4 separate regions of the Homo sapiens genome follow, and regions 2, 3 and 4 are each reported to be linked to region 1. Evidence: microRNA targets listed by miRTarBase, many of them from high-throughput screens and not tested one by one. Region 1 holds a microRNA gene; each other region holds the end of a gene's coding sequence.
The links. The annotated mature microRNA hsa-miR-616-3p reads AGUCAUUGGAGGGUUUGAGCAG and lies in region 1 at 871-892, opposite strand. An mRNA with a match to its seed (bases 2 to 7 or 8) in the 3' UTR can be bound and repressed. Matches are read on the target gene's strand: a 7mer-m8 pairs with bases 2 to 8, a 7mer-A1 pairs with bases 2 to 7 and ends in A, and an 8mer does both.

Region 2: miRTarBase lists CSGALNACT1 as a target of hsa-miR-616-3p. Seed matches in the 3' UTR shown: 7mer-A1 at 1,420-1,426.
Region 3: miRTarBase lists PSMA2 as a target of hsa-miR-616-3p. Seed matches in the 3' UTR shown: 7mer-A1 at 410-416.
Region 4: the mRNA of MIEF1 is a reported target of hsa-miR-616-3p. Seed matches in the 3' UTR shown: 7mer-A1 at 2,642-2,648 and 7mer-m8 at 1,292-1,298.

Annotation. Positions count from the first base shown.
Region 1 is chr12:57,518,313-57,521,405 of GRCh38, forward strand. It overlaps MIR616 (microRNA 616), which reads right to left and starts at 947; the gene lies at 851-947. DDIT3 (DNA damage inducible transcript 3) reads right to left here and starts at 2,202. Exons shown (of 4, transcript NM_004083.6): 1 at 2,106-2,202. LOC128125814 reads right to left here and starts at 2,168. Exons shown (of 2, transcript NM_001414991.1): 1 at 2,106-2,168. The coding sequence starts at 2,168. It also overlaps a transcript of MBD6 not described here. RefSeq lists enhancers at 1,038-1,999, 1,970-2,099, 1,974-3,093, 2,000-2,959, 2,960-3,093 and a silencer at 2,170-2,629.
Region 2 is chr8:19,403,167-19,406,259 of GRCh38, reverse strand. It overlaps CSGALNACT1 (chondroitin sulfate N-acetylgalactosaminyltransferase 1), which reads left to right. Exons shown (of 9, transcript NM_001354483.2): 9 at 191-2,099. The coding sequence ends at 480. Among named protein-coding and RNA genes, the nearest start is that of SH2D4A, 91 kb to the right of the region's middle. RefSeq lists enhancers at 1-298, 299-799.
Region 3 is chr7:42,914,765-42,917,857 of GRCh38, reverse strand. It overlaps PSMA2 (proteasome 20S subunit alpha 2), which reads left to right. Exons shown (of 8, transcript NM_002787.5): 7 at 23-80; 8 at 168-997. The coding sequence ends at 284. Among named protein-coding and RNA genes, the nearest start is that of C7orf25, 4.2 kb to the right of the region's middle.
Region 4 is chr22:39,514,115-39,517,114 of GRCh38, reverse strand. It overlaps MIEF1 (mitochondrial elongation factor 1), which reads right to left. Exons shown (of 6, transcript NM_019008.6): 6 at 1-3,000. The coding sequence ends at 2,792. Among named protein-coding and RNA genes, the nearest start is that of ATF4, 4.9 kb to the left of the region's middle.

The DNA.
Region 1 (3,093 bases):
AGCAGGCCTCAAATCTGCCAGGGTAAAAACTAAACTACAGGGAAGGGAACAAATCATAGCATTTTCCTAACTCCATTCCCACAGGGCTGACATCCTCCAAATGTACATTTCCAGTCTGGACCTCTTCCAGAACTTCAGACTCTGCTGTCTACTGCCTACTTGCCATTTCTTTTTCAATGTCTAATAGGCACCTAAGACTATGTGCAAAGGCAAACTCTTGCTGATTTTCCCCTTCCAAGGTCATCCCCATCTCAGATGACAACTCTAGTTGCTTAAGCTAAAAACCTTGGTATCATCCTTCATTCCTCTTCTCTCACACCCTGCAATCCAAAGTACTAGCAAATTTTAACTCATTCCTTTTTTTCTGAGACGGGTCTCACTCTTTTTGCCCAGGCTGGAAGGCAGTGGCGCAATCGGCTCACTGCAACCTCCGCCTGCTGGGTTCAAGCGATTCTCCTGCTTCAGCCTCCGGAGTAGCTGGGATTACAGGCATGCACTGCCATGCCCGGCTAATTTTTGTATTTTTAGTAAAGATGGGATTTCACCATGTTGGCCAGGCTGGTCTTGAACTCCTGACCTCAGGTGATCCACCCACCTCTGGTCTCCCAAAGTGCTGGGATTACAGGTGTGAGCCACCATGCCCGGCCCTTAACTCATTCTTTAAAAATGAGTTTTTAAAACCTTTGCTTAGAAGAATCTAAACACTTCTAATTCCATTGTTTCCAATCTAGATCAATTCACTACCATCTCTAAATTACTGCAGAAACTTTCTGACTGCAGAAGGTCTTCCCATTTCTTCTCTTGCCACCCCTCCGCAACTCTATTCACCATACAGCAGCCTGAGTGAGCCTTTTAAAACAGGTCATTCCTCTGCTCAAACCCTCCAATGACTTCCTATTTCATGTCATGGAAGTCACTGAAGGGTTTTGAGTGGAGGAATTACCTAAGGTAATTCCTGACCACCTGATGTAACACTCTGACCTCCATCCTGAACATTCTCCATTCCTTTCTCTGCTTTAGCTTTCTCCGTGGCACTTATATTTTGTTTACTGTAGGCCTCCCACTGAGATGATTTTTTCCTCTTGCTCAAGGATGTACCCTGAGCCCCAAACTGTGTGGCACACAGTAGGTCCTCATTAAGTATTTGTTAAGAATGAATGGATAAACTCCCCCCAGTCTCTCTTATAGGGAAGGGGCAGAAGCAGAGTGGCAGCTGCTGATCCCTAGGGGCTAGAGATGCAATATTGCCCGAAGTATTTCTCTGCAGGGCTGTCCTCCCTGGGGAACCCTCCCTTGCCTTCCAGTGTGTGGGACTTGGCTTTCATCAGCAGTAGAGCCTCAGGTCAGAAGGCTGCAGAGCCAAACGGGGCTGGCCTGATGCAATGGTTACACAGAGATTAGCTGGGAGACAGGACCGGGTTAAAGAGGCAGGGACTAATCCCGAGGGAAGGACAATACCCTGGGGAGACCCCAAATGGCCTCCTACACTTAAGAGATCCAGGCTGCTCTCTTGTGCAGGAGGCCCAGAGACCTCTACGGCAAAAGGAAAACACACCACTCCCTGTCCATCGGCACCCCTCCCAAAGGCTTGTGTCTCCTCAAGGTTCCCCTATCCGCTGCAGGGTCCAGTAGCCCCAGCTACCAAGGTGGCCATGCTGACACCAGAGGCACTGAGACTGAGACAGAATTGGGGGTGGGGTAGGGAGAAGGCCCGCTGGTGGCGAAGCGGCGGAAACGGCCTGAGCGATGGTCACCCAGTCTTAGAGCGGGGGTGTGTCCTGCTGACCTGCCTCCCCGCGGACAGGCCTAACGATGAGGCCTGAAGTTGGCTACGGGAAAGAATGAATTTCCCAAGGGCAACCGAGGTCCCTTTGCCCAGCAGCACAGAGCAGGGCCCGTGTTCCGGCTCCGGGCAGGGGTGGAGAGACGCCGTCGTCCGAAGCAATAGGGGTTTGTAAGCACCACCCCAGAATAAGGGACTCTCCCCATTCCTCTCTCGGACGGTCCCTAACTTCACTGTGGAGGAGTGAGGCCGATCCTAAAGAGCGGACGCCCCAACTTTGAGGAGACGGGAGGGTAAAAGGTAGATGGGAATCAGTACTCGCCTCTCTCCTCAGGTTCCAGCTCTGATTTTGGCTCTGTCGCTGCCACCCGCTCATCTTTAACATGATACGCTCAGTGCCTTAGACTTAAGTCTCTGACCTCGGGAGCGCCTGGCTGTAATCTTTTACCATGGCCTTGCCCTCCTCTCAGGGGCGGGACCCCAAAACCTACCAATCAGAAAGTGGCACGCCGGCATTGGCCCCGCCCCGTCCCTCGCATCCGCCACTCAGGAGCCCCGCGGCACCGCCCCCGTCGCTCCCTCTCGCTAGGGGGTCGACGTAGTGTCGGACCCGGAAGTGGCTTTGGGTCACGAGGCTTCACGGAGGAGGTGGGTGAGTCATGCGCGCGCGCGGAGGGGAGTGTAGCGGGGGGGGAGGGGAGGAAAGGGGGGCGGGGATGATGCAATGTTTGGCAACCGGTGTCTGCACGCGCACGCGCAGGGGACACCGAGGGTGGTGGGAGGTGCGGAGGGTGGGGGAGAGGAGAGAGGGCGGGGCGCCAGCTCCCGGCGCCCAACGGCCCCAACGGCTATCAGCCTTGGTCGCCCCTAGTCGGTCGTGAGCCTCTTTGCCGCTTGTCTCCCCCAGAAGCTGCTGTTCCGCCCACCTAGCTTTACCCGCCGTTTTACCCCCACTATAAGGGACTCCCATATTTCTTGGCCCCTCCCAGCTAATGGGCACATAGGCCTTTTGAACTTTTCTTTTTAAAGTTGGTATCCATCCACTGGGATTGTCGACATCTCGAGTCTTCTTAAAGAGGTCTCCTGGCCGGGCTCAGTGGCTTACGCCTGTAATCCCAGCACTTTGGGAGGCTGAGGAGAGCGGATCACTTGAGGTCAGGAGTTCGAGATCAGCCTGACCAACATGGTGAAACCCCGTCTCTACTAAAAATACAAAAATTAGCCGGGTGTGGTGATGCGCGCCTGTAATCCCAGCTACTCTGGAGGCAGAGGCAGAAGAATCGCTTGAACCCTGGAGGCGGATGTTGCAG
Region 2 (3,093 bases), not on the chromosome of region 1:
TAAAAGTCGTCTTTGTTGGGGAATTCTCGGGGCTTCTGACCCAGGTGGACACTCTCGTACCTTGGAGGGGTGGTGGTGAAGCACGCATCCCCCCCAGTCATGTCTTAATGAAAAGTTTGTGCTTGTTGCAACTCAGGGAAGCAAAACAGATCAGTGCAGTGTGATTCAACAGTGTGTTCTGTCCCGACAGGTGGGTTTGATCTGGACATCAAAGGCTGGGGCGGAGAGGATGTGCACCTTTATCGCAAGTATCTCCACAGCAACCTCATAGTGGTACGGACGCCTGTGCGAGGACTCTTCCACCTCTGGCATGAGAAGCGCTGCATGGACGAGCTGACCCCCGAGCAGTACAAGATGTGCATGCAGTCCAAGGCCATGAACGAGGCATCCCACGGCCAGCTGGGCATGCTGGTGTTCAGGCACGAGATAGAGGCTCACCTTCGCAAACAGAAACAGAAGACAAGTAGCAAAAAAACATGAACTCCCAGAGAAGGATTGTGGGAGACACTTTTTCTTTCCTTTTGCAATTACTGAAAGTGGCTGCAACAGAGAAAAGACTTCCATAAAGGACGACAAAAGAATTGGACTGATGGGTCAGAGATGAGAAAGCCTCCGATTTCTCTCTGTTGGGCTTTTTACAACAGAAATCAAAATCTCCGCTTTGCCTGCAAAAGTAACCCAGTTGCACCCTGTGAAGTGTCTGACAAAGGCAGAATGCTTGTGAGATTATAAGCCTAATGGTGTGGAGGTTTTGATGGTGTTTACAACACACTGAGACCTGTTGTTTTGTGTGCTCATTGAAATATTCATGATTTAAGAGCAGTTTTGTAAAAAATTCATTAGCATGAAAGGCAAGCATATTTCTCCTCATATGAATGAGCCTATCAGCAGGGCTCTAGTTTCTAGGAATGCTAAAATATCAGAAGGCAGGAGAGGAGATAGGCTTATTATGATACTAGTGAGTACATTAAGTAAAATAAAATGGACCAGAAAAGAAAAGAAACCATAAATATCGTGTCATATTTTCCCCAAGATTAACCAAAAATAATCTGCTTATCTTTTTGGTTGTCCTTTTAACTGTCTCCGTTTTTTTCTTTTATTTAAAAATGCACTTTTTTTCCCTTGTGAGTTATAGTCTGCTTATTTAATTACCACTTTGCAAGCCTTACAAGAGAGCACAAGTTGGCCTACATTTTTATATTTTTTAAGAAGATACTTTGAGATGCATTATGAGAACTTTCAGTTCAAAGCATCAAATTGATGCCATATCCAAGGACATGCCAAATGCTGATTCTGTCAGGCACTGAATGTCAGGCATTGAGACATAGGGAAGGAATGGTTTGTACTAATACAGACGTACAGATACTTTCTCTGAAGAGTATTTTCGAAGAGGAGCAACTGAACACTGGAGGAAAAGAAAATGACACTTTCTGCTTTACAGAAAAGGAAACTCATTCAGACTGGTGATATCGTGATGTACCTAAAAGTCAGAAACCACATTTTCTCCTCAGAAGTAGGGACCGCTTTCTTACCTGTTTAAATAAACCAAAGTATACCGTGTGAACCAAACAATCTCTTTTCAAAACAGGGTGCTCCTCCTGGCTTCTGGCTTCCATAAGAAGAAATGGAGAAAAAAATATATATATATATATTGTGAAAGATCAATCCATCTGCCAGAATCTAGTGGGATGGAAGTTTTTGCTACATGTTATCCACCCCAGGCCAGGTGGAAGTAACTGAATTATTTTTTAAATTAAGCAGTTCTACTCGATCACCAAGATGCTTCTGAAAATTGCATTTTATTACCATTTCAAACTATTTTTTAAAAATAAATACAGTTAACATAGAGTGGTTTCTTCATTCATGTGAAAATTATTAGCCAGCACCAGATGCATGAGCTAATTATCTCTTTGAGTCCTTGCTTCTGTTTGCTCACAGTAAACTCATTGTTTAAAAGCTTCAAGAACATTCAAGCTGTTGGTGTGTTAAAAAATGCATTGTATTGATTTGTACTGGTAGTTTATGAAATTTAATTAAAACACAGGCCATGAATGGAAGGTGGTATTGCACAGCTAATAAAATATGATTTGTGGATATGACTGCTTTGTGGAGTAAGAATGTCATTTTGTTTAGTTTTTGGAAATAGTATATTGTGCATGGACCATGGTTTCTCAGCCTTGGCACTACTGACACGTTAGACTAGATAACTCTTTGCTGTGGAGGGCTGTCTTCTATACTGTGGGATGTTTAACCACATCCCGAGCCTATACCCACTAGAGGCCAGGAGCATCTCCCACCCAGTTTTGACAATCAGATTGTCTCCAGTCATGCTCAAATGTCCTCTGAGGGGAAATCACCCCTGGTTAAGAACCACGGGGCTAGAGGGAGAAGAGAACCATAATGAAAAACCTGAATTATTAATACATTAACTTGTCTGTTTTCATTAGAGGAAATTGAGAAATGATTTCCAAGGCCCCTTTCAACTCTGTGCTTAATATTGTCACGTGTGGCTGGGCACTGTGGTTAATGCCTGTAATCCCAGCACCTTGGGAGGTCAAAGTGGGAGGATCGCTTGAGCCTGGGAGTTTGAGACCAGCCTGGGCAACATAGTGAGACCCTGTCTCTACAAAAAAATACATAATTAGGTGTGGTGGTACACACCTGTAGTCCCATATACTCAGGAGGCTGAGGTGGGAGGATCACTTGAGTCCAGGAGGTCAAGGCTGCAGTGGTGAGCCCTGATTGCACCACTGCACTCCAGCCTGGGTAACAGAGTGAGACCTGGTCTCAAATATATATACTTTTTTCTGTGCTCTGATGATACTAGTAACTTCAGGGCATGTGTTTGGCCTGTCTCTGGCATGGTTCTGATGGATTTGTGGTGAGTGCCCTGCATGCTCTTGTCCATATCCTCCCAGCGTAAGAAGGATGGGTGTCTAATGAGGCTGGCAGTGGCAATCCAATATTCTGACTGTGGAACTGGACAGGTCTGAGAGTCTCACAGGTGGTCCCATCCGGGCTGCACTCTGTGGGCTCATCAGCCATTTTTGTGCTTGTTTACATTTCATATCACAGATGCCCAAGACAGTGGTG
Region 3 (3,093 bases), not on the chromosome of region 1:
TAATTTTTTTTAAATTCTTCAGATATAATGAAGATCTGGAACTTGAAGATGCCATTCATACAGCCATCTTAACCCTAAAGGTTAGCTCAGTATTCAACAACTGGATTTATAATGATTTCATGATTAACTGCTTAGAAAATTGACCTTTTTTCCTCCCTCCTCAATAGGAAAGCTTTGAAGGGCAAATGACAGAGGATAACATAGAAGTTGGAATCTGCAATGAAGCTGGATTTAGGAGGCTTACTCCAACTGAAGTTAAGGATTACTTGGCTGCCATAGCATAACAATGAAGTGACTGAAAAATCCAGAATTTCAGATAATCTATCTACTTAAACATGTTTAAAGTATGTTTTGTTTTGCAGACTTTTTGCATACTTATTTCTACATGGTTTAAATCGACTGTTTTTAAAATGACACTTATAAATCCTAATAAACTGTTAAACCCACCTTCCAGCCTTTTAGGAGTTGCTAAAATTTTAACAGTTATTTCCTGCTTTTTATCACAGTTGATTTCTGAAGACTACATTGCCAAGCAGAATGATGAAATGACTTTTTCGTTGTCAGGCAATTTTGGTTAAGTCAAATCTTAATGCCCTCTTCGCTATCAGATGTTGCCTGTGTTTCCATAAAGCAAAATGCTGATTTTGGTAAAAAACATGACTGCTTCTAGAGCTGGGAGGATCTGCAGACTTTCACGGATTCATGGAACAAGAAAAGAAGCATAGGTACTTTTAGGTGCCATTAGGTATTGATCAGTGAAATCCTAGGGTGCTCTATGAGATTGTACTAGGCCTATGAAGAGTGGTAAGCCAAATAGGTCTCCATGGGAGATACATTATGTAAATAAATAAACAATGGTTTGCTGGTTCCTGTTGGTGTCTCCACAAGTAGGTAAACATGTTTAAAGGAACCCGGGTTCTTAGATTTTGTTAGACTTTTTAAACTCAAGGATGAGCATAAGTGCTTGAAATAAAATGCTAATACTTAAGTGTCAAAACTATGGCTTAAGGCTCTTGTTAATTCATTAATGTAATCTCAGTATAATAAATAGCTTCACTATAATGAAAGTTATAATTAAGTATCTGCACTCATATGAAGGCAGTGCTTAGGTTTTTTTTTTTAAATTTTTTTTAAGGCAACTTAGGATAAAATCATTAATTTGGTTTACAGAACATAAGGAGAGTTTATAAGCATAATCATTCTTACCAACGTGAAAGTATAGTGGGCAATTCCATGATTTAAATGGAGCTCAGAAGATTCTAAGATTTAGTTAAGGGCAAAAGAACCTTATTTTGGAGATTTTTCTCAGGGTCCCCAGTTCTGTTCCCTACCATCACTATAACACCCATATCTTGTTTTAGGTGGCAAAAGCATTAAGGAGATGAAAGATGGTAACTTTGGCTTCCTGTTTCAAGATGTTTATCTTGGCCTTGTCTAATAATCTCTCTTATGGGCTCTTGATATATTTTGACTTTGGCACACTAGAAAGCGGACATAGTAGCAAAAAGGTCTTTGAAGTCAAGTCTCAGCTATCTCACTTACTGGCTGAGTGACTATGTGAGGTAATTATCTCAGGGTTGGTTGGTTGGTTTGTTTTTTGAGACAATCTCTCTGTCACCCAGGGGGAGTGCAGTGGCGTGATCTTGGCTCACTGCAACCTCATCCTCCCAGGCTCAGGTGATCAATCCTTTTACCTCAGCCTCCCGAGTGGCTGGGACTACAGGCGCGTACCACCATGTTTGGTTTATTTTTGTATTTTTAGTAGAGACGGGGTTTCACCATGTTGCCCAGACTGGTCTCCAACTCCTCAGCTCAAGCGGTTCACCCGCCTTGGCCTCCCAAAGTGCTGAGATTATAGGCATGAGCCGCTCTGCCCGGCCATATCTCAGGGTTTCCTAAGGACTAAATTTGATAACACAAGTTAAAGCCTGGTGTGGTTAATAGTTACTCTGTTAACTGCCGTTGATTTTGTTTAGTCCTTCTATAATGTCCAGTATCAAAAGAGCAAAGCAATGTCAAAATTCTACAAATCAAAGAAGGGAAAATTAAAGGCATGTTAATATTTCAGAGGTAAGGAAAACTCATGTAGGTTTTTATTGTGTGCTAACAAAATTAGGCCTAAAGAATAAAGGGAGGAAAAATCAGCTGAACCAGATTTGATCCAGGTTCTGTTTTCCACCTCCTGCCCCCATTAAATGCAAAGCCCAGTTCCAGTTCAAGCTGCCTACAACACTTCTCCCTTTGTTCTGTTTATTCTTTCCACGGGCCTTAAAATTAAGTTGTTCCTTTTTGTCCCAGTTCTTAGAGTTCTTTGATGTAGCAACCCACTGCATTCCTAAACATTCCAAAACTCTTGAACCATTTCCAGCCTGTGGATTTTAGCTTAAGTATCATAATGTTTCTAATGTTCAGAGCCTCTGCCTTTTGGTTCATTTTGTATCTTCTAACCCTTAAAACATTTTAACTCCATTTGTTCTACTTCCTCCCAGTTCTACTGAACCATGAATTTAAATTTGCAAAGCAATTAATAGCAGTGAAACATGGAGATGCTTAAAATTCACATACACAGGCAATAAAGAATACTAATACAGAGCCTTATAATTATCAAGTGCTGATAACACTCAAGCATCCCTGAAGGAAAAAAAAAAAAACCCAACCTTGAGATAATTACCTTGCACAGTCTCTCAGGCATCAAGTAGGTGATAAGTGAACATTGAAGGGTTTTCATCTATTGCTCAGTTTTCTTCATAGAATGAAACTGCCAACTCTTAGTACTTACCTCACCTTTTTTTCAGGAGTCTACTCACCCATGTAGGCAAGCTCTCTGAGCCCCCCATTGCAAAGAAGAGCAAGTTGATGTTCAGCGAATTGCCCAAGAACATATAGGAGTTGAGAGTTCCCTTGGATTAGAATCCTGATTTCCTGAAAACCAGTCCTGGTGGTTCTGTATGAAAGTCACATTGCTTCACACAGTTCCTTCAATTTAGAGCTCCTCCCTCCACCCTGTTCTCAAGAAACTTATGAAACTAGCAATATCTGGCTGCCAATTATCTGATAACTTCCTAAGCATGAGCATATTTAAAAAGTTAAGTA
Region 4 (3,000 bases), not on the chromosome of region 1:
AAGGCAGAGTAGTGGGGAAAGTTACTCATCTTTCCCCAAAGATTTAAAAAAGGGGGCAGGTGCAGAATGTTGTCCTCTTCTATCCAAGAATCTCAAAGCAATTGCCTATGTTCCACACTTTATGATGAGGAAGATGGCAGCAAAAAGAACGGCTTGCCCAGTCATGGTCAGCAAACCCACCAGGACCAGCGCTGAGAGTTCACATTGCTTCTGGTTCTGAGGACTTCTTAAGAGGTTCTTCCTTGTAAAATGACAAAGTTATGGTTTTGTCCAACAGTTAAAAGAGATGCTCTTTAAGAAGGATGATAAACTCATTTGCCTTCCTTAAATGACAATTACACTCAACTTAAATAACTTGGGACTCTTTAAAATCTTATCTTTTTTAAGCTCTTCTTCCAATTTTTATTTTTTTGAAATAGGGTCTCACTCTGTCACCCAGGCTGGAGTGCAGTGGCACGATCTCAGCTCACTGTAACCTCCGCCTCCCGGGTTTAAGTTATTCTCCTGCCTCAGCCTCCCGAGTAGCTGGGATTATAGGCGCCTGCCACCACGCCCAGCTTATTTTTATCTTTTTCGTGGAGACGGGGTTTCACCATGTTGGCCAGGCTGGTCTCGAACTCCTGACCTCAAGTGATCCACCCGCCTTAGCTTCCCAGTGCTGGGATTACAAGCATGAGCCACCGCACCCAGCCTCCTTCCAATGTTTTATGTGAAATTTGGTCAGAGATGCAAGCTTGGGAAAACTTAAATTTTTTTAATACTCATGGCAGGGAAACCAAATCCTTTATCTCAATGAATAATCTATACTTTTGCAACACTCTATCAATCCTCTCCTCTCCCTTACCTCTAACGGATACCCAGTGGGTACACAGGAACCCTGTCAAGCTCTACCCCATACCTTCTAGATTCATCCAGGATGGTACTCAGGCATACAGATTTTTTTTTTTTTTTTTAACTCTCATTTGAGTCTGACCAACAGACAGGGTAGATGAGCTCTCTCAAGATTCTCAGCTTTATGTTTTTTGTTCCCTCTCAATACCTTTATGCAAATGAAACTGAAACCACCATAAGAAATCCTTGTTAAGGGGAAAAGAGGCAAAAAGACCTCTAAATATAGTCAAGGTTAACCCTAGTTCTCAATTTCCTAATCTGTGACAAAAGAGGGGCAGGAATCTCTACCCTAAATTGATGTTGAGGTATCGATGCTAAAGAGTCATTTCCTGTTACTATCGTTGGGAAGGAATGAGACAGCTGCAGAGAGCTTCACCAGAACCTCAATGATGGAGAGGTAGTCATTGAAAAAATAAGACAACTTGACGGAAGGAAAACAAAATACTGAATGGGCAGATGAGAAACAGAATTATCATCAGAGTCTTGCTACAAACAGGGAAAAACACAAACCAAGATGACACACGGACATGGTAGATTAAACATTCCTCCCCACCTTCAGGATACATTTACATTGCAATAAATACTGCAATCTCAGCAGCGGCAAACAAGGAGGAATGTAGGAAATGCCCACCTCCTCCCCTCTGTCTTATCTGTGTGCTCTCTTCCTTGGTAGCACCGATCTCCCCAGGTGCTGGGTGAGAAACAGGACAGGGGGAAGAGGTCCGTGCATGCTCACTTGCCCTCTGGCCGTGCCCGGAGCGCTCAGCAAACACCCCTCTCACATTCCTATGGCAGACGCTGGAGGATGAAGGGCTGGCTGTTGGGTCTGTTCTTGCTCTAAGGCCACATCCTAGAAAAGCAGGGCCTGTCTGGGTAGAAAACATGGCCACCAAACCCCAACTAGTGACTGGATTTTCCAGCTGACATTCAGTCGACTGTCTACCTCCATCATCCTCACCTGATGTCTAAGGCTGCGTTCCTTCAAGGCCTTGTCCTGATTGGCAATAAAATAAGGAAAAGGTGTGAAAACCAGCATTCATGATGAAGTGGTGCCCTGGCAGTCCCCATCCTTGTCTGTCTGACCCCTGCAGCCACAGATGACGAGCAGACACTGGGCACACAAACCCTTCACTAGGCCCTTAACCAGCTCTGGTTCCCTACTCTGCACTTCTGCTAATAGCCACCAAGAAATTCAACCTGCAAATAACTTTGCATTCAGCTTATCCTGTGTGGGTCATTAACAGTGTTCCCATGAGAGACATTCTCAGCATTTATGAATGGGTCAGGAGGTTGGGGGGAGGATGGACTTCTACTCCAGGAACCGTGGTCAAAGGCCAACTCTTCTACCAGCCTCACTCCCAGAAACCCTAAATACTGTCTCAGCACTCGCTCTGTAGAGTTCAGCTTTGAAACATGCTATCACAGCTCTTCAGTGGCATTCAACTAAAAGGCAACATCTTAATTAGGCAGATATGCTCCAGGGACAAGAGCAAAACAGAAGGCATGAACGAGAGAGGAAAAAATAGAAAAGACACTGAATAGGAACAGGCAAACGGGCAAGGCAGACCAGATAGAGGCAGCAAACATGGGCCAAAACGCAAAACACCAAGTGGTCCATCAGCTCAGGCCAGCACGCCACCTTCTCAATTCATTCCAGAAAAATTAGCCTGGAGCCAGGGGGCGGCAGAGAGCACAGTGATTGGTAACAAAAATAGGAAGAGTTGGGTAACAAAATAGGAGACGAAAGAGATGTCATTCTAATCAGCATGAAGTGACCAGGGTGATGATCAGCAAGACACCAGGCAGCAGGAACCCTGTGAGGCACCAACTAGGTAGCCAAGTGTATCTAACGGAGAATCCAGGGCCTGACCACCAACACCCGCTTTGGCCTTCACCTGCCCTACGTCTGCAGCAGCACCTCTGGCTCAGACAATGAGCAATACAGAGTGTATCCTAATTCGTCTATTTCTTCAGGGGTGAGCTCTGCAAATAAGTTCACCTTGGGGTTTAGGGCACTGGGCAGGACTCCAGCCTCTAAGTAGCTGATAAGTCCCCTCAAGGCCTGCAGGAAACGGTCGGCCAGCATATCCGGAGACCAGTCAGCCTCCT